Homo sapiens: one gene and its partners. The protein of the gene in region 4 interacts with the protein of the main gene of each other region in a pairwise test. Each region holds a gene or a part of one and is shown on either strand. Other genes may lie near its edges. The genes, in order: SPRED1, TLE5, KRTAP3-3 and OLIG3.

Evidence for each region.
Region 1: the proteins of OLIG3 (region 4) and SPRED1 interact in binary tests that used the Homo sapiens proteins (3 or more experiments, as listed by UniProt).
Region 2: the proteins of OLIG3 (region 4) and TLE5 interact in binary tests that used the Homo sapiens proteins (3 or more experiments, as listed by UniProt).
Region 3: the proteins of OLIG3 (region 4) and KRTAP3-3 interact in binary tests that used the Homo sapiens proteins (3 or more experiments, as listed by UniProt).

What each region holds. Positions count from the first base shown.
Region 1 is NC_000015.10:38,318,818-38,325,847, forward strand, and holds part of SPRED1 (sprouty-related, EVH1 domain-containing protein 1), read left to right. Parts: intron 1-3,423; coding exon 3,424-3,592; intron 3,593-5,945; coding exon 5,946-5,992; intron 5,993-7,030. UniProt on the Homo sapiens protein: Tyrosine kinase substrate that inhibits growth-factor-mediated activation of MAP kinase. Negatively regulates hematopoiesis of bone marrow.
Region 2 is NC_000019.10:3,059,496-3,067,205, reverse strand, and holds the start of TLE5 (TLE family member 5), read left to right. Parts: upstream 1-4,710; 5' UTR 4,711-5,005; coding exon 5,006-5,032; intron 5,033-5,948; coding exon 5,949-6,046; intron 6,047-7,710. UniProt on the Homo sapiens protein: Transcriptional corepressor. Acts as a dominant repressor towards other family members. Inhibits NF-kappa-B-regulated gene expression. May be required for the initiation and maintenance of the differentiated state.
Region 3 is NC_000017.11:40,992,927-40,998,283, forward strand, and holds KRTAP3-3 (keratin-associated protein 3-3), read right to left. Parts: upstream 1,239-5,357; 5' UTR 1,172-1,238; coding exon 875-1,171; 3' UTR 504-874; downstream 1-503. UniProt on the Homo sapiens protein: In the hair cortex, hair keratin intermediate filaments are embedded in an interfilamentous matrix, consisting of hair keratin-associated proteins (KRTAP), which are essential for the formation of a rigid and resistant hair shaft through their extensive disulfide bond cross-linking with abundant cysteine residues of hair keratins.
Region 4 is NC_000006.12:137,491,699-137,498,517, forward strand, and holds OLIG3 (oligodendrocyte transcription factor 3), read right to left. Parts: upstream 2,697-6,819; 5' UTR 2,473-2,696; coding exon 1,654-2,472; 3' UTR 501-1,653; downstream 1-500. UniProt on the Homo sapiens protein: May determine the distinct specification program of class A neurons in the dorsal part of the spinal cord and suppress specification of class B neurons.

The DNA of each region.
Region 1 (7,030 bases), on a different chromosome or scaffold from region 4:
TACATACCACATTTTCTTTATTTAATCCACCATTGATGGACACCTAGGTTGATTCCATGTCTTTGCTATTGTGAATAGTGCTTGAACTTATTTTTAAAACTACTTTTTCTGTGAGTGTTGGGAGGCTCTAAACAATAGATGCCATTTGAAGACAAGATTAGGGTAGATCACATTGAAATTTTATTTGAGAGTTAATAGTTGAAAATATTAATTTTGTAAAATAGAAGAGGGGGCTAATTCAGTAATATTTTCATGTATTAAAAATTAATTTGGTGTTATTATTATATATTAAAAAACTAGAATCAAACTGTTTTTATGTCTTCCCCTTTTTAACAATTCCAATTTAGCATTGTTTTACAAAATACTGCTTTTCCCACTGTTTATGAATATAGTATAAATGTTGCAGTAATTTATGACACTACCATTTACTTCCCCTTGAATTCTAGAACTTAATCGTGAATTGTTGTTGTTGTTGCAAAATGGTTGTAACAAATATTTAATAGTAAATCTGTGTAAAATGCTTTAGCAAAGTGCCGACTCAAAAAAGCTCTGGATACATGTAAATTATTTTCTTTTTTTGAGACAGAGTTTTACTCTTGCTGCCTAGGCTGGAGTGCAATGGCATGATCTCGGCTCACTGCAACCTCTGCCTCCCAGGTTGAAGTGATTCTCCTGGCTCAGCCTCTCGAGTAGCTGAGATTACAGGTTCCCACCACCACGCCCGGCTAATTTTTGTATTTTAGTGGAGACGGGTTTCACTATGTTGGTCAGGATGGTCTTGAACTCCTGACCTCAGTTGATCCACCCGCCTCAGCCTCCCACAGGGCTGGGATTACAGGCGTGAGCCACTGTGCCTGGCGGTTAATTCTTTTCTAATACACATAGAGTCATCAAAGTATAGGAAGCAAAAGTCTTGAGAGAATTTCACTGCATTGCCTATAAACGGGCAGGACTGAACCTTAGTCACATTTTTGGTTATTTCTGAATTAATAAAACTTACTACCAAGAATTATTATATTCAGTGGTATGCTGATAAAAGGTTTAACAATCAGCTTTCAAGAGGGGACACAAGTCAATGATTTATAGCATTTACATACCTCTACCATGGCTGCTTTTACTCAACATGCCATCATTGCATATAGCATTGGGAAGAAATGAGCAGCAGTGTGGCATTATATAGTATTTCCACCGTACAGATATGACAGACATAAACTACCTCAAGAACCTAGGTAATTGTAAAAATATAGTAAAATAATTAGGAACTGATGAGTTTTGTGTATTTATTATTTTATTTTTAATGCAATTTATTTCATTGTAGAGTTATATATTCTAGCTTTTAACAATGGCTTCCAAAATTCTTGAAAATTTAATATCTGGCTCTTGGGAGCCAGTATAAGCAGACTCTAGCAGACCTCCCCTCCAAAAGTATAAATTAGAGATTCCTAGTCCATGATCTGTGAATGAGTTCCTTGGGAAGTGCATAAAGCCTAAAAGATTTCTGAGGAGAAGTATTGGTTGAGTACCTAATGTTTGTCTGCCACTGTAGTTTAAGGATTTGGCAAACAGACAAAGACCAGCTCATGCAGGGCCTAGTAGGTCATAGTAAGAATTTTAGTCTTGAAAGCATTGAAAAGACATTGAAACTAGGGAGTGGTCCAGTAAAGTTGCTATTTTTTTTTAAGAAAAATTATTACTCTACCTGCAGAGTAGTGCAATTACTATTAGTAATTCACTACTACTAGTAATATCTGAGGGGATCATCAGCAGTGCATGGAAGAGATGTGCAAGTGATAATGGTGATTGGAAAAGAGTGGAGGTAATGAAAATACAACCTTTCACCAAATACCAGCTGAGCATTTATTATGTGTCATGTGCTACTATGGGTTTCATTTGAATTATTTTTAATTCTTTTCCTCCTGTTTTCTTATAGGGGATTCTTAAAATAATTAAGGTGTGTAGTTCTAGTCTTTTTATTAGATTAATTGCAAAGATCACTAATATATCCACTTTTGTTTTATTTGACAACTAACATATATTAAAAGCATACTGTGAATATGATGAAAGACAGGCCCAGGAACGAAAGACTGAAGAGACCTTATAACTGTCCTGGAATGGATCCTATACTGGAAGGATTTTTAAAATGCTCTAAAAGGTGTTATTAGTATAGTAGGCAAAAGTGGAACGTGGTCTATGGAACATGGTCTATAGATTAAAGTTCTGTGTTGGTTTTAAATTTCCTGAATGAGATCACCATACTGTGATTACATAAGAGAATAGTATTGCACTTAGGAAATATACTCAAGTGTGTATTAAAGAGCAGTAGAACATAATATATGTAACTCCTTTGAAATAGTTCATAATAAAGTAAATTAAATGTTTATACATGGATATATGTGGAGAGAATGTTAAAAATTAATGTGATAAATCTGGATAAAGGGAAAACAGGAATTTTCTGTGTTATTCTTGTTACTTTTCTACAAATTTGAAATACTTTCAAAATAAAAAATTTAAAAACCAAGGGTATATTGCTTCATGCATTGCATGAAGCTCTTAACATGAATGCACATTCGGTCATTCCACTCTAAGCTCTGGGATATTTTAGTACTGCAATTTCTGTTTTACAGATGAGTAAACTAAGGCTTCAAAAGTTAGGTAACTCACTTAAATGCATATTTTGAAAAAGTGGCCAAGTGTATTTGTTTTACTGCTGTGACCATTAAATCCTTACACAAAATATAAATACGTCTTTTAAGAAGTTTAGGAAAATGACTTTATTTTGTTTTGTTTTGTTTTTGAGACAAAGTCTCACTGTGTTGCCCAGGTTGGAGTGCAGTGACGTGATCTCAACTCACTGCAACCTCCACCTCCTGGGCTCAGACGATTCTCCTGCCTCAGCCTCCTGAGTAGCTGGGATTACAGGCATGTACCTCCACACCCAGCTAATTTTTTATATTTTTAGTAGAGATGGGGTTTCACCATGTTGGCCACGCTGGTCTCAAACTCCTGATTTCAAGTGATCCGCCCGCCTCGGCCTCCCAAAGTGCTGGGATTACAGGTGTGAGCCACTGCCCCCAGCCAAAAATGACTTTAAAAAGTTAAATTTCTATTATTACCAACCCCCTGCCTGTTTCCTGGAAGTAATTCCTGATATATTCCTCCAGAAATTTTGTATGCAATGGGAGTGTATATATGTGTGTATTCTTAAAATGGGAGTATAATAAGCATCCTGTTTATAATGTGCATTTTTTTATTCCATCTTAATCTCTTTATTGAGTGACTTTGTGAAGTAGACCACTTTATTTAAAATACTAAAAATTATTCATTAAAAAGTAATAGCGTTGTATCACCTCAGTTTGTATTTATGAGCTACATTAGATGCATTTGATATATGTATATTAATTTTTGGTATTTGGCTTTTGTCAGGTGGTTTTGGAATGTATGCTTAAAAAAGACCTCATTTATAATAAGGTCACTCCAACATTTCACCACTGGAAGATTGATGACAAGAAGTTTGGTCTTACGTTTCAAAGTCCTGCTGATGCTAGGGCTTTTGATAGAGGTATCCGAAGAGCTATAGAGGATATTTCTCAAGGTAGGTATTCTTGACTATTTTCTTAATTTATTTATCGGTTATATATAGTAGAGGTTATCTTTCTTAAAGTTGACCCAAAGTAGTTTTCACACTTTAACCATGTCAGCTTTTGTGATATGTGACCAGGCTTTGAAACCTCACAATAGATGAAGATAAAATAATAGATTCCTTAACGTGATTTGTATTTGTCACATCATAGTCTATGTCAATTGCATGTATTATCTTGAAGAGTCCATCAACAGCTGACTTCAGATAATTCAAATGTTTTAAAATAAGAGCTTGAAGGAAGAGGGAATAGAAATGTACAGCTGCGAGAATCCCAGTTGGTATTCTACTTGTGTATGTATGACACCAGTCACATCCTTTTTTTGGGTAATTATATAGAACTTGTAATATTCAAATGTATGTAGACTCTAGTTATTCCATGACAAAAGTCTTTACTTGATTGATTTCATTATTGAGGATTGGCAGAGACCACAAGCTCATCTATTCCTTTGTTATCTTGCCAGTCTATTAAAATTATTAACTCAAAAGCATACAGGTTTTGAAGGGAAGAATAATGTTTTTTCATGTAAGACTGGCTTATGCTTACTTAAACAAAAATCACATTAAAACCCATTTCTTCCCATAAAGGAAGAACTAAGACTTGATTTTTTTTTCTAATTAGGAGGAAAATTATTTCAATTTAACTAACTTTCTATATAAAGTAACTGAAAGTGTGCTAGACTACGTTGTGATTTGTGTTATTTTGAAGATGTCATTTTAATAAGAAAATCTGAAAACATAAACTGTGAGACCAGTCACAGGCAAGAACATGGAAATACATTGTACAAATCTGTTTTGATAGTGCATAAAACTGTAGTTAAGTAATTTATTTAGCTACTTTAAAAGATTAGAATTTGGTAAATGAGTAATTTTTTATTCTGATCCAGAAAAAATTACTATGAAGTAATAGTAGCCATTTTGTCTTTATTGTAAGACCCCATAAATTCTCCTTAGATCAGTGTTCTTAACCTTGGCTACACATTAAAATCACCTGGGAAGCTTTTGAAGCTTAAAATGACTAGTCTGCACTCCAGACCAATTGAATCTATCTGGGGAATAGAGTCGAGTCATCCCTTATTTTTCAAAAACTCCAAGAAAGTTCAAATATGGTGAAGAATTGTTCTCTAGTCAAGGAATTGTAATTTGAATTTGAAGAAAAAAAAATAAGAAACTTAAAAAAAAAAATACATGATGTTCTGTGCCTCATTCCACAGAGATTCTGATATATTTTGGTTTGACGCCATACTCTGGCATCAGTGTATTTTTTGACAATTCCTCAGTTGATTCTAACCTTTAGCCAGGTTTGAAGAACCAGTGCTTTAAAGAGAGAGAAAAATAGTATCCATGGCTGCTGGAATTTATATGATTTAAAGTTTTGAATTACTTTTAAGTTTATGCTCATGTACCATAACAGTATACCTCTTTCACTAGGATCAAACAGATTGGGTTTAATGTTTTAAAAAATGATTTATAAGGAGTAGCTTACAAACTTCTAGGTAGAGTAGACTACAGTACTTAGTCTGCCTTGTTATTTTTGAACATTAAAAAACATTAGCTAGCATTATTATCAGCTGCTATATAGACTTTCAACAATCTCAAATTGCTTTTACTCGACCTTCTGTGACAAAAAGATAAAATATGCTGCTCTTTCCAAAGGGCGCATTTCTTCTTATCTCATGCCTACTCCGTGCTAAGCTGTGCCTCTCAAGGGTAGCATGAACTAAGAGTACTTTGCTAGGACAAATCCTTTCTTATTAATTTATTGAAACTAAAGGTACTCTTAACAGCATGAAAATCTGTACAGAGACGTTGATGCAAAAAAGTCAGTAACAACAATTGGCCATTAACTGTCAATAGTGGATTAAAACTCATTTGTTTTCCATCTTAGCTAAAGCAACTAAAATCCTGGTTATGGGTACTAAATACTGTTTCCTGGGTCAAAGCATTTAGAAAAATTGAATAAATCACATCTTAGCATCACCAGAGCAATGTAATTATAATCTGCCTAGTAATTTTGAGTATTTGGGAGAAACTAGGGGCAGGGGTAGCTAGAGATAGTATACTTTCAGAGAAAACATCTCGTTAGTAAGCAGCTGGAAATTTACCTATAGAGGAGGGAAATAATTACATTATTCTCCATTATTCTAACAGGGGCAAATGCAAGTGGCCAGTACCTTAATTGCCAGGCAGTCCAGAAAGATCTCTGATTAGTCTTCTAAAGTATTATAATGACATAATCAATTAGTCATTAATACTGGACTCTAAGACAAAAATTCTATACTTAATTAACTTTTATCTATTTTCTTAGGATGCCCCGAATCAAAAAATGAAGCTGAAGGGGCAGATGACTTACAAGTAAGTAATGGCTTGGAAGGAATTTGTAAACATAAAGGATGTGGAAGAAATCACTAGCCTTATTCAATAAACTTATCAATTACTAAGAATATTTCTAAGACACTCTATTTGTCAGATTTCTCCAGAAGAAAAGAACCAATACAGGTTGAGCATCCCTCATCTGAAAATTTAAAATCTGAAATGTTCCAAAATCTGAAACTTTTTTTCTTTTTGAGACAAGGTCTTGCTATGTTGCTCAAGCTGGTCTCGAACTCCTGGGCTGAAGCAACCCACCCACCTCCCCACAGTGCTGGGATCATAGGCCTGAGCCACCGTGCCTGGCCCCAAAATCCGAAACTTTTTGAGTATGGACATGACACCTCAAGTAGAAAAAATTTACACTTGACCTCATGTGATGAATCACACTAAAAATGCAGTCAGAATTTTGTTTCATGCACGAAATTATTTAAAATCATGTATAAAATTACCTTCAGCCTGTGTGTTATAAGGTGTATAAACATAAATTTCATCTTTAAATTGGGTACTATCCTTAAGATGTCTTATTATGCACATACAAATATTCTGAAATTTGAAACAGTTCTGGTTCCAAGCATTTCAGATAAGAGATATCAATCTTTATATAGAAAGTAAAGTTTCTGGGGTTTTTTTTTTCTTTTTTAAGGAAGTGGTTCATAAGATTGTGGGCTGGGTTGGCAGAATGGGCAGGCACGCTGAAAATTGGCACAAGTTGATGTTGCAGTCATGAGAAGGCCGAATTCTATTTTCTTCAGAGGACCTCAATCTTTTTTCTTATGCCTTTCAACTAATTGCGTGAGGTCACCCACATTATGGAGGATGCCTAACTGCCATATTAAAAGGACATTCAAGCAACACTGTGTAGATATTCATGTGGTGAGGAACTGAAGCGTTCAGACAATAGCCATATTAGTGAACCACCTTGGAAGCAGGTTATTCAGCTCCAAGCAAGCCTTAATAGATGACCAGTTGTGGCATGTTTTCATTGCAACCTTATGAGGAACCCTGAGCCAAAACCATCTA
Region 2 (7,710 bases), on a different chromosome or scaffold from region 4:
CTTAAGAGGGGCCAGGCGTGGTGGCTCACACCTGTAATCCCAGCACTTTGGGAGGCCCAGGAGGGCAGACTGCTGGAGCCCAGAAGTTCAAGACCAGTCTGGGTAACATGGTGAAACCCCATCTCTATGAAAAACAAAAATTAGCCGGGCGTGGTGGCACACGCTTTTCATCCCGGATACTCGAGAAGCTGAGGTGGGCAGATTGCTTGAGCCTGGGAGGTCGAGGCTTCAGTGAGCCGAAGTCACACCACTGCGCTCCAGCGTGGGTGACAGAGTAAGAACCCTGTCTCAAAAAAAAATAAAAAAGCTAAGGGGATGCCAAATACCTAAGTCATCAGGATAAACACTATTTTGATGCAATCTACTTTTATTTTTTGAGATGGAGTCTCCCTCTGTCGCCCAGGGTGGAATGCGATGGCGCTAACTGAAGAATCTTGCTCTAAAACCTCCTGTGGCTCCCTAGTGCCCTCCAGGTAAAATCCCAGCTCCTCAGCCCAGCAGCACGTGCTGCCATCGTGTCCCGGCCAGAAGCCACACTGCAGAGTGCTCAAAGGCCCAAGGTCAAGATCAAAGGCCTGGGATAACATCGTGGTTCTGCCCCCTACCCACTTGGCCAAGTCACTTCACTTCTCTGTGACTCACTTTCCCCATTTTTTTTCGTTTTCTTTTTTTTTATTTTTTATTTTTGGAGACAGAGTCTCATTCTGTCGCCCAGGCTGGAGTGCAGTGGCACGATCTCGGCTCACTGAAACCTCCGCCTTCCGGGTTCAAGCGCTTCTCCTGCCTCAGCCTCCAGAGTAGCTGGGATTACAGGCGCCCACCACCACGCCTTAATTTTTGTATTTTTAGTAGAGACGGGGTTTCGCCATGTTGGCCAGGCTAGTATCAAACTCCTGATCCTCAAGTGATCTGCTTGCCTCGGCCTCCTAAAGTGCTGGGATGACAGGCCTGAGCCACCCTGCCGGCCTGTTTTCCCCCCATCTCTAAAATGGGTGTGACAACTGTACCTAAAGGTTAAAGTGCTTAAGGCAGCCCCTGGTGCGGAGCAAAAACATACAGACCTGTGTGGCTTGGTTGATTATTTATAGTGTGGGCCACCATTCTGGGCTGCCTTCTATGCAGAAAAAAAACCTATTTTCTAAAAACGATGATTTCACAATGACTCTCTCCTTCACAGGCCTAGGTCCCTGTGGGTGGCCCAGCCCTCACCTCACCGTGCTCAAGGTATCTGTGTCCAGTTCTGCTTCCCCTGACAGTGTGGGGGCTTCGAAAATGGGGCTGTTTGGTCACTGGGCGGGCACACTGATACCGGAAGGCGCCTGCCTAAATAAACACTGGCAGGTGGCCTCCCAGGAGAGGGGGTGTCTGGTCCCCACGGCAGTGGGGGTGGGGTGGCAGGGGTGCTAGCGGCAGGACTGGCTTCAGGGGCAGTCTAGGAACGCAGTCTCTCAGGGCCCTGCAGGAAAAACAAGGGTGTTGCGGTTGGTTGAAGGCTTGGCTGTTACTAAGTAGTATTAATCTCTGTTTCTTTGTTTCTTTTTTTTTTGAGACAGAGTTTCGCTCTTGTCGCCCAGGCTGGAGTGCAGTGGCACAATCTTGGCTCACCGCAACCTCCACCTCCCAGGTTCAAGCAATTCTCCTGCCTCAGCCTCCCAAGTGGCTAGGATTACAGGCGTGAGCCACCATGCCAGGCTAATTTTGTATTTTTAGTAGAGACGGAGTTTCTCCATGTTGGTCAGGCTGGTCTCAAGCTCCTCACCTCAGGTGATCCGCCTGCCTCGGCCTCCCAAAGCGCTGAGATTACAGGTGTGAGCCACCACACCCGGCCACCAAGTAGTAGTAATCTTAAAAATCCAAAATCCTAATCCTTTCTAGCCTCATCTTTTTTTTTTTTTTTTTTTTGAGACAGAGTCTCACTCTGTCACCCAGGCTGGAGTACAGTGGCGCGATCTTGGCTCACTGCAACCACCACCTCCCAGCTTCCAGCGATTCTCCTGCCTCAGCCTCCAAGTAGCTGGAATTAGAGGCGCCCGCCAAAACACCCCGGTAATTTTTGTATTTGTAGTAGTGACGAGGTTTCACCATGTTGGCCAGGCTGGTCTCGAACTCCTGAGCTTGTGATCCACTGGCCTCGGCTTCCCAAAGTGCTGGGACTACAGGCATGAGCCACTGCTCCCGGCTTACAAAAAATGTTAAAATTAGCTGGGCATGGTGGTGCACTCCTGTAGTCCCAGCTACTCAGGATGCTGAGGTCGGAGGATCACTTGAGCCCAGGAGTGGGAGGCTGCAGTGAGCTATGATTGCACCACTGCACTCTAGCCTATGCAACAGAGGACTGTGTCTGAAAAAATTTTTTTAGGCCGGGTGTGGTGGCTCGCGCCTGTAATCCCAGGACTTTGGGAGGCCGAGGCAGGCAGATCACGAGGTCAGGAGATCGAGACCATCCTGGCTAACACAGTGAAACTCCGTCTCTACTAAAAATACAAAAAATTAGCCGGGCGTGGTGGTGGGCGCCTGTAGCCCCAGCTACTCGGGAGGCTGAGGCAGGAGAATGGCATAAACCCGGGAGGTGGAGCTTGCAGTGAGCCGAGATGGCACCACTGCACTCCAGCCTGGGCCACACAGTGAGACTCCACCTCAAAAAAAAAATTTTTTTTTAATAAAAATATTAAAACACTGCTTTAAAGATTATTAATCTTGATCACTGAAGGCTATCACCCTTACCTGCCAAGGTAAGGAGCCTGGGGTTCCAAGTCTATTTTACAGATGGGAACACCCAAGGCCCAAATCAATTGCATTCATTCAAGGGAGCAGGCTGCCTAGTGGATGACGATGATGAAGAGACTGTGTTTCGCACCTGCCAAAGGGGGACCTTAATGTCATAGCCTTATTTCAGTAGCCTCTTTGGGACCTGTTCTCTGCGTGGCAGAGAGAGGGATCCTTTAATAACCGCCACCAGGTCCCATCCCTCCTCTTCCCACGGCTCTCCAGGATTCCCACCTCACTCAGAGCAAAAGCCCAAGTCCAGGGCCAGGCGCAGTGGCTCACACCTGTAATCCCTGCACTCTGGGAGGTGGAGGCGGGAGGATCACCTGATGTCAGGATTTCAAGACCAGTCTGGCCAATATGGTGAAACCTGTCTCTACTAAATATACAAAAATTAGCCAGGCGTGGTGATGCGCACCTGTAATCCCAGCTACTCAGGAGGCAGAGGCAGGAGAATCACTTGAATCCGGGTGGCAGAGGCTGCAGTCAGCCAACATCACATCACTGCACTCCAGCCTGGGCAACAGAGTGAGACTCCATCTCAAAAACAAACAAACAGCTGATCACGGTGGCTCACGCCTGTAATCCCAGCACTTTGGGAGGCCGAGGCGGGCAGATCATCTGAGGTCGGGAGTTCAAGACCAGCCTGACCAACATGGAGAAACCCCGTCTCTACTAAAACTCCAAAATTAGCGGGGCGTGGTGGCACGTGCCTGTAATCCAGCTACTCGGGAGGCTGAGGCAGGAATCACTTGAACCCAGGATGCGGTGAGCTGAGATTGTGCCATTGTACTCCAGCCTGGGCAACAAGAGCGAAACTCCATCTCAAAAAACAAACCAACCAACCACCAGGTCCCGTCCCTCCTCCTCCCACAGCCTTCCAGGGCTCCTACCTCACTCAGAGCAAAATCCCAAGTCCTCCCCAAGACCCACAAGTCCTTGCTGGACTGGCCTGCTTCACCAGCTACAGAGTTAGCAGGGCCCAGTGCAAAAGAAAACTCAAAGGCCCCTTGTTCAAAAATGATTAGAAATCTCAAAATGCAGCAGTAAATATTAACCCAAGCACAAGCCCTGCTGTGGGGTGGGGGGGCCCTGGACAAAAGCACGAAGCCCCCGGCCCTGCCTCCCTCCGGCCTTCCTGACCTCCCCCCGGGCACTCTGCTGCCAGGCACAGTCCTGCCCCAGGGCCTTTGCACCTGTTGGTCCTGCCTCTGACTACCTCTGTACCCCATCCCCCTGTTCTCCCTCCTTCTTCAGGTCGCTTTAGGGGTGGAGGAAGCCGTCTCTGATCCTCCCTCCCACCTCTTTAACTTTGCACCTTCCTACCCTGCCATTCTCCCGGCTGGTTTTTCTGCAGAACTGTCCCCACCATCTGACCTGCCAGGAATTCAGCTTGTGAATTTGTCTCTGTCTGTCTCCAGGCACCACCACCAGGGCAGGGACCCACCCCCGCCCCGCCCCACCCCAGGGCCCTGGAGCAGCGGGGCCTGGCACACAGTAGGCGTTCTATAAATGTGTCACAAGAATGGCTTCCCTCAGGAAGGCGGCATTACCGCTGCCTTTCTGCAGAAAAGGAAACTAAGGCTCAGCAAGAACCACCGCCCAGCCAGAGCCAAGGTCACAGAGCACGTCCGTGGCACGCGTCCAGGTCGTGCCACAGCAGGGCCGGCGGCTTCGACGCGGGCAGCCGGGTCCCTTTTCTTTGACAGATGGGGAAACCGAGGCCCGGCCGGCTGCCGGGTAGGAGAGGGTGGCGGGGGCCGCTGCCCGGGGCGGGGGCGGGCCGGGCCCAAGGTCACCGCGGCGGGCGGGCCACGGGGAGGCGGGCCGGCGTGGGGATCCGCAGGCCTCCCCGGGCGCGCGCGTCCCCCCCCTCGGCGGCGCGCACGGGGCACGGGCGGCGGCAGGTGGAGCCGAAGCCTCCGCAGCAGCCGAGCCGCGGCCACTGCCGGCGTCGCCGCCATTAGACAATAGCGGTGGGGCCGGGGAGCGGGGAGGCGGGCGGCGGGGAGGGGCGGGGAGGGGCGCCGGGCGCGCAGGAAGCGGGGCCCGGGGCGCGCCGGGGCCGGGCGCGCGGGGAGGGGGCGCAGGAAGCGGGCGAGGCCGGGCGCGGGAGGCGGCGGCGGCCCCGGGAGCTGCCGATCGGCGCCGGGACAAAGGCGCGGCCGCCCGGCGCCCCCAGCAGCCCGAGCCGGGGCGCACAGCCGGGGCGCAGCCCGCGCCCCCCGCCGCGATTGACATGATGTTTCCACAAAGCAGGCATTCGGTAAGCGGGGCCCGTCCGGCCGGCGCCCCCACCCCGGATCCGGGCCCTACGCCCCCGACCCCCGGCTCCCGGCCCCGCGCCCCCCAACCCCCAGGCCCGGTGCCTCCGGCCCGGCGCCCCCCCCAACTCCCCGGCCCTGTCTTCCCTCTCCAGCTCCCAGCCCGGCGCGACCCCCCTCCCCTCCTGCCGCCGGCCCCCGGACACCCCCCCTCCAGTTCCCGATCCACCCCAGCTTCCGGGCCCCGAGCCCCCCCGCCGCAGCTCCCGGCTTGGCGCCCCCCCCCCCCAACCCGCCGGGACAGTCAGGGCCTCGGACGGCCTTGGCCTCGGGCCTGGGGCGCTCCGGAAGCCCCGCGAGGCACCTCTAGCCCGGGGATCCTTTGGGGGCCTGTGGTGGGGGGGGTGATCCGAGGCGCACCCCTCCCGGAAGAGCGTGTCCCCGAGGAAGGGCGCTGGGAATCTGGGGTTGGGCCCCCCCGGAAGATTTCGAGCACCGAGAGAGAGACCCCTCCCCCAAGAGGACTTTGCAGGGAGGAATCGCTGCCCCCCAACTTGGGGAGGGGGCTCCCTAGGGCGCGTTTCTACCCCCCTCGGATGTGCACTCCCTCCCGGCGCTTTGGAGGGCGGTAGAGGGCGCACCCTGCCCCCCATCTAGGGCGGGCCTTAAAACGCACCCCCACTGCCTGGGGGTGGCGGGGGACGGGGCGGCTCCGGGCGCACCCACCCGCTCGGCTTCCCCCGGGAGAGGCGGGGGGCAGGAAGCGCGGGTGGGGTCGCGCCAGGGGCCGTAAACACGGGCCCAGGAAGTGGGGCAGGAGGGGGGGCGCCGCAGCTGCGCGGCCGCTCCCTCCTAGCCGGCCCTTGAGGGGGGTCCAGCCCACGCCTGGGCCTGACCCGGGCCGCCCCATCCCTACAGGGCTCCTCGCACCTACCCCAGCAACTCAAATTCACCACCTCGGACTCCTGCGACCGCATCAAAGACGAATTTCAGCTACTGCAAGCTCAGTACCACAGGTGAGCTGGGGGACTGGGGGTCCCTGCGTCCCGAGAATGTGAGTCCCCCCATTTCTTCTGCGCAGATGGCAAGGCTGAGGCCTGGAGATTGGGAAAATAATATATGCTAGACTCTGACCTAATCACTTGACAAATACTGAATTCATTTATTTTAAACAGCCCCATTTTGTAGAGGAGAAAACCGAGGCACAAAAATAGTTAAATAATTTGCCCAAAGATTCAGCTGTGTGGCTTCAGAGCCCCTCCCTCCTCCCCAATACCCCCAAGTCCCCCATTGGATAAAAGACCTTCCAACAATTGGAGTTACGGCACGGACTCGCCATCCCTCAACCCCCAAAACAGAAACATTCTGCAGCCTGGTCATCTCTCTCTTTGCCCAGTTTTGGAGAAAGGGTTCCCAGCACCCGTCAGATTCTCCAAGGTGCTGCTTCTTTCAGAAATCTGGCGTTTCTGAAGAGCTTGCCACGCTGCGGTATCTAAGGGGAAGGAACTATTTAGTCCTCTTACACTTAAAGAAACTTAAGCCCAGGCCAGGCGTGGTGGCTCATGCCTGTAATCCCAGCACTTTGGGAGGCCGAGGAAGGTGGATCACTTGAGGTCAGGAGTTCGAGACCAGCCTGGCCAACATGGTGAAACCCCGTCTCTACCAAAAATACATAGTTAGCTGGGTGTGGTGGCGGGCGCCTGTAATCCCAGCTACTCGGGTGGCTGAGGCAGGAAACTTGCTTGAACCCGTGAGGCGGAGGTTGCAGTGAGCAGAGATGGAGCCACTGCTCTCCAGCCTGGGTAACAGGGAGACTCTGTCTCAAAAAAAAAAAAAAAAAAAAAAAAGAAAGAAAAAAAGAAACTTAAGCCCAGAGATGTTATGATGTTATTTCCTCGGGGGTGTCCATAGCATTGAGGAAGTGGCAAGGCTGAGGTTTGCACCAGGTCTCTCTCCTGGTTTAAGGATATAGGTTCTCGCCTGCCCTGCTCTGGAGGGGCACGCCGGGCCTGGGAATCTGGAGAAAGTCAGGCTATGCTCAAACCCCCGTTTGGCCTTGGGGCCCTCTCTAAACTGAAGCGTGCCCACCCCAGAAGTGTTCCTGGAAGGATCCTGGATTTCCTCCAAGTAGAAAGGGGAATCTCGATTTTGTTGTTGCTGCTGCAAATATCCCACCTTTTTGGGTACTCCCTGTGTGCTCAAGACCGTTCGTGCCTCCTCGTGCTTCATCCTTCCTGTCGTCCGACTGTCGTACCCATTCTCAAGCTGGGCAAACTGAGACACTGACAGTCGAAGGTGCTGGAGTCAGCTTTCCATGCAGGCCCCAGAAGCTTTTGTGCGGGTTCCTCGATATGAAGGGTTGGATACCGCCTGGTGAGCCCCGGGGCTGACCTGATTCCACAGGGAAGGGATCAGATGGCGGTCACAGTGCTGTGTGACCTCTGCTAAGCCGGAAGCCCTCTCTGAGCTTTGGGGTCTCCATCCGCTGGGCCTGGGCTTCCTGCTGTCCAACGAGGGACCCTACCATATCAGAGGCACACACCGGATGTTCGAGGCGTAACAGCCCCTGGGTGGCCAGACCATCCTATTTTTCAAGAAAGGCCAGAAATGCAGGCTTTGGAGTGAAACTTCTTTTTTATTTTATTTTATTTTTTTGAGACGGAGTCTTGCTCTGTCGCCA
Region 3 (5,357 bases), on a different chromosome or scaffold from region 4:
TTCGATAATTATTAACCGTAGGAAGAAACAAATGGATGTTGTGTTTGTATTTGCTTCACCTGCCAGATGGTTAGCTTATTTTCAGCAGAGACAATAAAACACAGGACACACAATAGACATTTAATAAATCTTAGTTGAATAAATAATGACATTATTATATTTTTTTCATAAATAGATCATGTCACCTGGATTAGTTTATATATTTTGTCATATTTGGTGTTTGGGTAATGTTCAGTATTTCTCAACCTGTCTGAAACCATTTTTTGGGAGGACAAGTCAGGAAAAGTCTACTTTCAAATATGCCGATGTACTAGACCATCTTACATGCAAGGATGTTTAATTTTCTTAAAACAGCAAGAACAGCAAAATTAAGAAATTTTTGTCCATACTGCCACCATTTTCAGTTTCACTAATGTTTCCAGTTTTTCTTTAAATGCCAATGTTCAGAGTTAAGAAACGCATTTAATGAATGAACAGAAATAAACAGAAGTAATTGTAGACACTTGTGCTATGCCAGAGATGTAAAATTTATTAGGATAATCATGAAGAACTTCCTTAATTTTCAGAAAGATACCACCCAAGACTGAAAACAGAATTCCCAAACCACCCACAGAAAGAGACACTTTAATATGAAGGAATCGAACAGCTTCAGGAAGCTATAGGCATCCACTGATTCAAACTGCAGTTGGTTATAGCTGAATGGTCATTGAAAGTTTCTTGGTCTCTTTTTTTTTGCAGGGGGTGATTGTGGTAGTACCATCCTTGTTCCAATTTCTAAAGCAGAGTACATTAGTTGTAGGTACTGAGATAGGTGAATGCTAAAGCTTCTATGTTGACTTTTTCAATCTCAGGCACTGAGCAAAGTAGCCATCCATTAGCAGCCTCTTGGGAGGCAGGGCTCACAGCAGGGCTGAGTGAAGGTGGTGAGGTTGAGGGTCTCCAGGCCTGGAGTTGGCTGGCAGGAGTTGAGCAGGAAGCAGGTGGGCACGCAGGGCTGAGGAATGTGGCAGGGTGGGGGACAGTTGTCACAGCAGGTGGGCTCCAGTAACCAAACTGTGTGTGGGCAGGTGCTGGGCAGGCAGACTCCACAGCGGCAGGATTTGTCAGAGGAGCAGATGGTGGTGGCAGGCCCGGTGGGGACACTGCAGCCTCGAGAGGCACAGCAATCCATGGCTATTAGAGTCTGTGGTATTTATGGGTTTGATTGAAAAGAAGGATAAGGCTTCTGAGGTGTGAATATCTCTCCTTTCTCTGGGGCTCTTATGTACCCTCTCCACTGGGAGTTGGTCCAGCCAAGAGGCTTCTTTCCTGGTTCTTGTTTATGTTAGTGTACCCATTATTCTTTAATTTGTTTGACATTTAGACTCTGTAAAGAGTCCCCATTTTCCTAATTAACTTTTATTTGAGTTCGTTGCTAAATCTGAACTGATTACCCTTGCTATTTGTCACTGGAACACAAGCTTTATGAGGTATCACCAAAGCCTTCTGTTATTATATTTTCAACACCAGCCCTGCTGGGGAATATTGCATGACAGTGAGTCTGTAATATGTGGGCCTGCTCTCCAGTGCTGCTTTATTTTTAATCTGTCACTTTATCTATACCAATTTGTCTGATAAAGTATTCTTGTTTTAAAGAGTTGAACTTAATTTTACTTTCTTTTAGCTTTGAGGCTTTTGAAGATCAAAATTACATTAACATGAAGAAATATGCCATTAAGAAATATGGAAAAACTTTAAAAAACGCTTATTATTCTAGTTTTTTACTACAAAATATTTTGTATACATTGTTTATCATTACATTACATTACTGGAATCATATTGTGCATAGGTTCTGAAACTTGCCTTTGTGTGTGTGCATATATATTATATATATATATAATTATCTTATATTTTAAAGGATATTTGATAGTGTTACTTTTAATATTTCTTAGCATTTATTATATAATTGCACTTCTATGTTACTTTAAAATTTTATATTATTATGCATTGAGGTTATTTTCCACTTTTCTCTACAATAATTTTGGCAACAGAGCACCTCTGTATGTAAATCTTTGTGCATATTTTTGATTATTTCAGAAACAGAATTAATTATTTGGTAGAATTATAGGGGCAAATGTTAATTTCCAGTATTTTTAAGGCCTTTCATATCATTGCCATACTGTTTTTCAGAATGGTTCTATTTACCTACTTTTTTTTTCAAATTATCTATTTCCACCAGATGTGTTTGATTAAGAATTCCCATTTCGTATACCTTTGACAGATACTTTATTTTAAAGGTGTTTTCCAATTTCATTGGTGAAAAACACAATTTTATGATTGTTGTGTCTGTATTTCTTTTATAACCAGCTAGGTTGAAATATTCCTTCATATGCATATTGGCCATCTGTCTTCTATTGAGAGTTGGCTTGCTTTGTTTCCTTCACTGCTAATTGTGGGCAAATTGAATTTTTAGCTTCTGTCTATATAGACTAAATAAAATAATAACTTAAGAATACAAAACTAAAATTCAAGTAAAATTATTACCAAAGGAAACTTATGAGCCTGAGCTAGATTAATCTGTTGACATTTGATTTCATTCTCTCTCTCTCTTTTTTTTCTTTTTTTTTTTGCAAGGTATTGCATTTTTTCCTGAAATCAAATGTAGCTGTGGTAGGAAAGACCTGGTTCTAGTACCAGTACGCTATTTAGACTGCAGGCATAGTTCAGTGTTTAAGAGGGAGCACAAGGTGGGCTTGTGGCCAATATCATTTATACACCTCGAACCATTTCCGCTCAGCTTGGTCTCATGCTTCTTGCAAGCCATGGTTCTTCTCACATTCTTCATACCTCCTCTTTTAGGCACACCTGTTGAGTGGTGCATTGTGGTGTGCATGTTTGTATGTTTTGGGAATGGGGACGTGTAGTCAAGAGGACCACCTGAGGAGTCAGAATAGCTCTTGACTGTTCCCGGTGCTGCTGGTTATCTTCCTCGTTATGGTAAGTAATTCACTTTTAGGAGCTTCATCCTTTTTCTCTGCGAAATCAGGGTAATAGCATGCATATTCCTCCACTTAGAAGATTATTGTGAGGTTCACATGTGATAAAAAGGGTGAAAGCTCATGGACAACCATATAATGCTATGCAAAAATAAATTATTATCATGATTGAAACAAATTACAGATGAAATTCAAGGCAAGGTAAAGATAAAAGAAACATAGTCAAAAGAAGAAAAGAAAATGAGATGAAGGTAAGTAAGAGAGCAACCTTACAGGAAAGAGCAAACATTTATATTAGTTTATACAAATAAATAAATAAATAAATAATCACATCTACGATTAGAGAAAGTGGTTGGCATATAAATTAACAAACCTAAAAATTTGAAAAGCTCCCTATGGCTCTGATTGAAAGGGAGAATTCATGATATCTTCTGGTTCCTGGACTTTCCCCAGATTTATCTTTGTATGAATGCCTGCCGAAGTGTGCACCCTTTTACTTAGAACTGATTAGTATTTCACTTATTATTTAAAAAGTAATTCAACAGACATTTACTGAGCAGTTACTATGTGCTAGTCACTGTGATAAATGTTGGATTTATAGCAATAAACAAGATAGGCACCATCCTTGCCCTCATGAAGTTTACAGTTTGGTGGAAGAATTTTTCATACACATAACATATTATTATAAGCTGCTGCTATTATACATTATAATAGGAAAGAAAAAGAGTAAAAGACAAAAAATAAAAGAAAAAATTATTTTGAGGGAAACATTACAAAGGAAACATGGCTTGCAGACCCTCAGGATTAGAATTTCATGGCAGAAAGCTATCAGCTTCTTACCTGGGATACAATATTACTTTGAGTTCACCATAAAAGCTTAGAGCAACTATTACTGTTTATGCAGCACATTGTGTTTCTCTAATCATAAATAAGACAAGGTTACAGATTACAAACAGTTGTAATGCAACAAGTTTATTATAATAAGCTCTTCTCTTTTATTGACAAGACTTGCAGCACTTTATTAAAATGTATTTTCTCTGCAGTGGTCTAAGAGACCTGAGAATTACTCTCCTTTGTTTATAAATGATGACAGTGATTCATAGAGAGGTGAGATGATTTGCCTTAGATGGTTCGGGAGCCAGTGTGTTAAAAACTAAATATAGGACCTATTGGGATTGAGCTACCTTTTATGTGGTTAGAAATGGAAGTTTAAACTATGTGTCAGAGATACTAAGCATTTTATTTTTAAAAACAACGCGTATCTTTTTTCTTTAAGTGAATGTAGGAAAAACATGGTGATTCTTGATGAGATGGTAGATTTTCGGGGTGCTAAAAATCTAGACACACACACACATACGCACACGCACACTCACACATCCAAGAAGTCCAGTTTTAATTATATCTTTCTATAGTCAATGGAGGGATCTGGGACAGTGCAGATGTAAATCAAAGATTAATAATGAAAAGAGACAGAAGCAAAACATGATTATATTGGTCTCTTGCTTGAAATATTTCATTGCTTCAAAGTTTCAGTCCAAACCCCTTTGCTTTGAGGAGCCCCTTATGTCTGGGTCTTTGCATTTCTGTCTTCTCTGCCTCACCCTCTTCAATGCATTGTTCATCCAGTCATTCCCAACTACCTCCTGTGGCTTAAAGACACCAACCTTTCCGCTGCCTCCATGATTTATTAAGCTGCTATTCTGTCTGGAACAACTGTTCCCTACCTCTCCTGCTGCCTATTCATCTTTTAAAGCTTAGACTGGATAGCTCAGAGGCTTTCCGTAGCTATTTCTCACCTTTGACACTGAATCACCAAATCAGGGTTTTAGTTATTCTTTCTGTATGCTTGCATGCCATGCTGCTCACCTCCCAGTCACAGCAGAATCCCTCAGCATTGCAATTATTATTATGATAACTTGTCTTTCTTCTTCACTAGATTTGGGAGAGACTTGAGGGCACTTGAGACTTGAGGTAATAGCATTTCTTTTATCTTTTTACTCCTGGCATCAATATGATGCCTGACATAGGGCAAACACTCAGGAAATATGGACAAATGAATGAGTGAATGGACTAGATCTCTTGTTGACAATATCCTCTGTAGTGTCCCATAGACTCCATGGCTGCTAAGTTCTGTTCATTTAAGGTTGAGCTGTAAAAAGCCTATGGAATCCCGTGAGAAATTTCTCTCTCAAGACACTAACAGGTACATTGAGGACATTTTAAAACAAGTTTGTTAAAAAGCATTTGCTTCTCCCCTTCCTTGTCCTACTCTGTTTCTTGCATGTCTTCTTGTGGTTTTATTTCAATGCATTTTCAGATTTTGACTTGTGTCTTTATATATGTATTGTGTATAGATATACATACACACATATATTTATATGT
Region 4 (6,819 bases):
TTCCGAGGGTGCAGGCAAGCAGGGTGAGTATTTGACTATTTTCTAAGACCACTCTTTGTTGACTTTTAAAATGTATACTAGATTTTAACATGGGGGGAAAAGCACAAGTTCAATTTAAAGTGAAAAGAAGTTAACGTACTGCTTCATCCTTGTTTGTTGCCAACACAGTCATCGTAGTGACACTCCACCTCTCATTTCCTGCCACTTTAAGTTTCCAGATTACTTTTTAAAATTCAATTCTCGAGTTTATGAGGGTCTGATTACTGCAGAGAAATGAGCTCAAATAGCATAATACTATGAATGTGGGCAATGCCCGCTTGAAGGACATTTAGTTCCAAAAATCAGCACCAATTTACCCATCCTGTTTACTTGTACGTAATCACGGAAAACCTTCACATCTGCCCACCCATCCAAATTCCTCACCCAGATACACCTTACCTGGTCCACGTGTTTCCTATCCCACTACCCCCATCTGCTAAGATTTTAGGCAAAGGCAAAGCCACGATTTAAAGGTTCTTTTTTATTTGAAATCTCATCCAGAAACACTGGTTATTAATAAATATATCATAGTTATCAAGAATATATAAAAAATAAAGACAGGTATCGTCTTTGAGGCCCTAACAAAATATTTCAAGCAAATGTTCAGGAAAATAAAAACGGCACCCCTCCCAAAACCAGGATAAGTTTTCAAAGCTGATAATAGAGAGAGCCAACCCCGCATGCAGAATAACTGAGCGAGGGGGGGTGGCGCAAGCTACTAGAGGGAGCCCAGGCTTTTACAATAGCGGCCCCAGAACAGCAAAGGAAGGTTCCGAATAAAGTTTGAAGGGGGTGGGGGTGGGAGAAGAAGCGCGTGTGCGTGAGTGTGGGTCTTTGCACTCTGCCCCTTTTTTCATTTCATACAACCACAGACAGATATATGGAGTACTTGGGATAATTCACTAATAAATCCTTGTTACAAGGAAAACGGCACCACAGCCTGCACGACATATTCAGACAAGATTCATTTAGAAGCGTGCATGCATTCTTTTGACCTACACTGCGTCGAAAGGAAAACCCACATAGGAGGTGTCATGCCCTGGACCTCGGTTGAGATTCAAAACTTGGGTCTTGATCTCTCTCGCGCTCTCTCTCTCTTTCTCTCTCCATTGTCTCTAGAAAAACTGTGGCAAGGACAGAGACAATCATAATCGCATCCATCTCAAGAAAATATTTACATTTGTTTTGCACAAAAGGGATGGCCGTCTTTTTCCAAAGCGAGAACACAGAGTCAGAGAAAGCCAACTCAAAAGTCCCTTCGCAAGTTTTTAACTACACCGATCCCATCTTTATACAACAAATGCAGTTTTGACAAGAGCATATGGCAGTGAAAAATACTGGCGCGGCATGGGGAAAAGAAGCATGCATGCAAAACACACGACATCTGGTTCGAGTCCCCCTTTGCTACCACCTAGAAATTGCGGTTTGATTTTGGTCCTTTCCCTCCGGGGGTCAAGTGGAGTCTGAGATCTCTCAGACAGCGTGGGAGGCTGCGGGCCCCGGAGCCTGCCCTCCCGTGGGCCGAGCGTGCAGCCTCCCTCTTCCCTCCCGGCCCGGCACCGCGGCCCCTCCCGCCGCTCTCCCTCCTCCTTGGCAGCCGGGCCCGCCCGCTGCTCACTTGAGCAAGTCCTTGGACTCGGCCGACAGCCGGGCCATGTTGGCTGTGGAGAGAGCGGACAGGTGCGGCGGCGGCGGCATCTGGCAGATGGTGCAGGGGCAGGGCAGACCAGCCCAGTGCTGGAAGCCGCTGCCCAGCTGCAGCGCGGGCGGCGTGGAGGGCGCCTTGAGTAGCGAGTGGGGAGGCCGGATGGTGCCGATGGCGGGAAGTGAGGCGGCGGACAGCGGTGACGAGGCGTTGCCAGATGAGAGCGCGCCGCCCAAGATGGGGTGCACCGGGTGCACGGAGTTGGCCGCGTGCGCGGGGTGGCCGGCCGAGTGGCCCACGGTCCCGCAGTGAAAGGCCGAGTGGTGGCCCCCATAGATCTCGCCAACCAGCCTCTTCATCTCCTCCAGGGAGCTGGTGAGCATGAGGATGTAGTTTCTGGCGAGCAGGAGTGTGGCGATCTTGGAGAGCTTGCGCACCGACGGCCCATGCGCGTAGGGCATGACTTCGCGCAGCCCGTCCATGGCTAGGTTCAGGTCGTGCATCCGCTTGCGTTCGCGTCCGTTGATCTTCAGCCTCAACTGCTGTAGGTCCTGCTCCGACAGCTGCTTCTTGATTTTGTACTTGCTGCTCTCTCCCGCGGCCTTGGCGCCAGCCCGCGAGAGGCTTTCCCCGGGCATCTTCTGCATCATATCGCCCTGCGTGGACGAGACCGAGTTGAGACGGCTCTCCTGGTGGTGGTGGTGGCGGTGGTGGTGGTCCCTCAGGTACATCTCATCCATGTCCGGAGATGAAGCTCTGCTGGAGACAGAGCTCGAATCAGAATTCATTTTATTACAGGGGATGCGGCCCTACCGTGGGGAGGCTTTAGGCGGGAAATTAAAGAAAATCTTGAATTAAAAAAAAAAAATCTGCACTGCCCAGGAACCCACTTCTCCGCGGCAAGACGTGAGAAGAAAAGCGGAGACGCTGCTTTTCCCCGCCTCTCTCCCTCCCACGCCCCTCTCTCTGGTTAGGCTGCTTCCTGGACAGCTAGTTGGTGTGTGCTTGAACTAACCTCACGCTGAAAAAGAGGGGCTTTTATAGAGCTGCGGCGGAGAAAAGAGACAAAAGGAGCCCTCCTATCTATCCTGGGCTGGTTAGGATGACGTGCCATCATTCAGGGCGGTGCGCTTTGCTGTCCCATTTAGCAAGGATTCCTATTCATATTCATTGTGGGGCCGCCCTGGGACACCTCTGCTCCGAACCGCTAGGAGCCCCCAGGCACAAAACCCTCTGATTGACACACTCACCGCTCCAGCTTACGCCTTCCTGATTTTTTTTTTAACTTTCTTCCACCCCACCCCCCTTCCCAATTTCTCTAACCAAATCACACATCAGGAACGGAAGGAAGGCAAGAGAAGGTGGCCAGGCGGTTGGTGGAGGTTCCTCTGAGTTTGGAGAGAGGAATTGAAACATTCGCTCTCCTTTCTTTCCTGGCTGCTCCCAAGTTTAGAGAAATATGGGCAAAAATAGGTCTCAGTGGAAAGGTTTGAGGGACAGAGGTGCGGTCGGAGGGAAGGTGCTGCCAGCGGGGGCTGGGGGTGGTGGGAAGACTGCATGCCGACTTTCTCTGTCTCAATATTTTTTTTTCATTAGATCTCTTTTCCTAAACACTTCCATTCTGTCAATTTTGTTTATTGGGCCCTTCTGGTGTGGTTTCAACGGGATGTCCATGTTCGGTGATGGCTTTGCTCCTGGCAGTATTGTGGCGGAGAGGTCTCTTATTTTCTGTGTCCTCTCTTTCGTTTTAAAACATGGATTTCTAAAAGAATTTCAGTTTTGCACAATTCTTTAACTTCCTAGACCAAAAACTGCGAAAAAAAAATGTTAATGTCACAAGAAAAGCAACTTGGGAGGATGGGAAGGAAAAGGAGCCAAGGAGGCAGAGAGAGAGATTGTTAGGTTCCTGAGAGCTCCAGAGAGATTGTTCCCACTCCAGGCTTCCTGGACCTTGGCGCTGGCGCAAAACGGTGGGACGGTCCGCGCCCGAAGCTCCGCCGGGCCTCCTCTGGCCGCTGTGCTGACGTGCCCCGAGCTCCGGGAACTCAGCGGCACCCCGGCCTGCGCGGGTGGGTCCACCAGGCTGGGGCCGCCGTACGGCGTCGGACAGGGAAATCAGAAGCTCATAATAAACTATCTGATGTCGGGGTGGTGGGGCGGGGGGGTGGGGTGCGTGGGCAAAGAAGCACGGGGGAAGGGAAACAACGAAAGGACCTAGAAAGCCCCTTGTGCGTGCCCGGGCACTGCGGTTCAGCGCAGAGTCGTTTCTGGGAATAAAGAGGAGGTCGGAGTTTGGAGCCTTCGGTGCGAGTGCGGAGGTGGGCGTAGATCTTTCTTCCCCCTTGCTGTGTTTTTGTGATCAAGACTTTAGCTCAGCAGCACGAGGGGCGGGAAGGCAGAAATCCCGGGAAGGGAGAGAGCCCCAGGAGTGGTCTCTAGAAGAACCCGGACACCGCCCCTCTCCCGGCTTGGTGGAACGGGAAACAAACGCTAGCTAGTGACTGAGAGTCTCGGTGGAAGTGTGAAATCGAATCAATCGCGGAACCTCGGGCACTTGGGGCCTCTTGCGCCGCTGAGTCACTTCGAAGAACAGGATGCCCCCCTTTCCCTTGACTCAAACCGAGCGGTCAGTGGGAGAGGGATGCGCGCCCAGGTCCGGAGTTTGCACGCTCTGAGGCTGTGCCCCACTGACAGTCACGCTGCGAAGGCAGCTCTGGCCAATACCAGAAGGATGGGCAAACGCAACATTGGCATGGATGCTTTTGCTACACCGAATTTTGTTTTTCTGTAATGGGGGAAAAATGGCCAACAGCCCTTCGTCAAGGCCAGGAAGTTAGTGCTCTTGCAGATTGGACAGGAGCCTCTTCTACCACCTTCATCTCGGTGGAAGGAAAGTTTCTTAATTCAAGAGGTTAGATTGGATGTGGAAAGACTAATGTCCAAAAGCATTCCTAATACCAAGCATAAAGAATGTTTCTTAATTCACCAGACTCGCCAATAAGATAGTGACATACACTAAGTCTTCCTGGTTATTTAAAAAAGGAGGGGAGGGGGGAAGTGCTCCAGAACTTGTGCAGTCCCAGGTGATGGGAGGAAGCTAGTGGCTAGTCCTAACGACAACCCTCTGCGACTCCCCTGCTGATCAAATGGGGTGAGGAGAGAGAGGCGGACGGGGGAGGGCATTGGGAGCGAGCACTGGACTGGACGAAGAGCAGCTTCCCCGCCCTGCGGACGGTGCACAGGTCTGGCCCCCGCCGTCCTCCTGAGCCACCTCCCTGACCCTAGGTCGTCGGCGGCGTCTGTCCTTCCCACACCCAGACTGAAAACGCTGCACCTGAGTTTTGATTTGGGGAAGTAGAATTGTCTGGTCAGAGCAGAAGGGTTGCAAATGAAGGAGTGGAAAAATCATGTTGCTACAAGATATTTTACCCTTTAAAAAAAGTCTTGATTTTCCCAGTGGACAATGTAAAATAAAGTTTTAAAATCTCCCCCAAATTAGTAACGAAGGTGGCAAGCCGTGGGCGGGGGGAGGGGAGGGAAGGAGGGTAGAGCAGCCCTCGAAATACAAGCTTGCGGGGCTGGAAGTCCGGGGCCAGGGTTCTGGGAGTCCAAACCAGAAGCCACTCTCCTTCAGCACAGCCTTTCAGCCGAGAGGGGGCTGACGCCTGCCGCAGCCGGTTCCGAGGGGGCTGCGATGGGCCGGGAAGGGGCGACTGGGCCTTTGCCCGAACAGACCAGGACATTCCCTTCCTTCTTCCCTAAGGGTTTTCAGCTCCAGTAACAGAGGTGCCTGAAATGGGAGATCTGCGGGGACCAGGCCGGGACTCCCTGGCTCCGAGGCCGGGACGTGGCGCGCCCTCCGCTCCTCGGTCACCCTCTGCTTTTTCGAAGGTCCGTAATGCGTGAGTGTGGGTGGTCCAAGGTTCAGGGCCTCCTTCCAGTAAGTACTTTTAGAAGCTAGTTCCCCCACTTCCCATCCGTTGCGGGGCTTGACAACTAGACGAGGGGAGTGAGTAAAGGTGCCACAACTTTGCTTACCGTAAAATGGGTTAATACTCGCCGGGGCCCAAAAGGCTGAGTCGCCCCGCACGTCTTGCTTCGTGGAGTCTCTTTTCGACCCCCGCCACCGCAGCTCAGTTCCTCGGATTGAGCCCTGAACCCGAGAAGGAGCAGGCCCGGAGCTCAGGAGGGCAGGCACACGGATTTCTTTCTGAGGGCTGACTACCAACGCCCACCCCAGACTTGTACGGAAGGAGAGAGTAAAGGAGTCGCCGCCTGGCCAAGGCTGCAGCAGCCTACAGAGGCTCAGCCGGAGACGCACCATGACCTTGGCCCTGGCCGAGACCCCTTTCGGAGGGCTCAGACCGGCGAGGAGCCGGAGCGAGCGACCCTGCTGCGGTGGCTCGGGCTGCGCTCTCTCGGGCCACACCCCGCGCCCTCGCGGCTGGGGCGGGCTGCGCCGCGGAGGCGGGGATCGTTCTCCGGCAACAGGTGCGTCCCAAGGCAGGCAGGCTACTTCCCTCCAAGCCTGTCTTGGCTCTGAGAAGAGCCTGGAGTTTCTCAGCCTTCCTACAACATATGAAAACAGCGGGTCGGCGCGTGGACCGGGGCAGAAGAGCCGTCCTGCTGTACCCGCGCGCCCAGGGCGCTCCGCGGGGACCGCGCACTCGGGAAGCTGTGCTGTGCTCAACACCCCCCTGTGCCTCCCAGATCACCAGGGATCGTCTCTTACCTGACACCCAGTGCGCGCCGCTCGGTGCCCGACGCCCACTGCTCCGCAGCCTTAGCCACCGAGTTCCTCTCCAGCAGCTGCCGGCTCTGCCTGAGGCCGCGGCGATTTTGGCTCAGGAGCGAACCCCCACCCCCACCCCCGCAAGAGTCCAGTAGCAAATGTCGCTAGCTGACCTGCCGAAGAGCTACTGTGAGAGGCAGGTCAATCAGCAACGTCCAGGGGCTCCTCTCGCTCATCAAGCAGCAAACTTGACCAGCAGAAACTTTGGCCGAGACCGAAAGGCGGGAGGCTGCCCTGTGGGCTTCACCTTTCAACCCAACCACCCTCCAAGACAAAACAGAACAAAAAAAGGAAACCTAAACATTTCTAACTATGTTTCCTCATGTGCAAACAAGGAATAGCC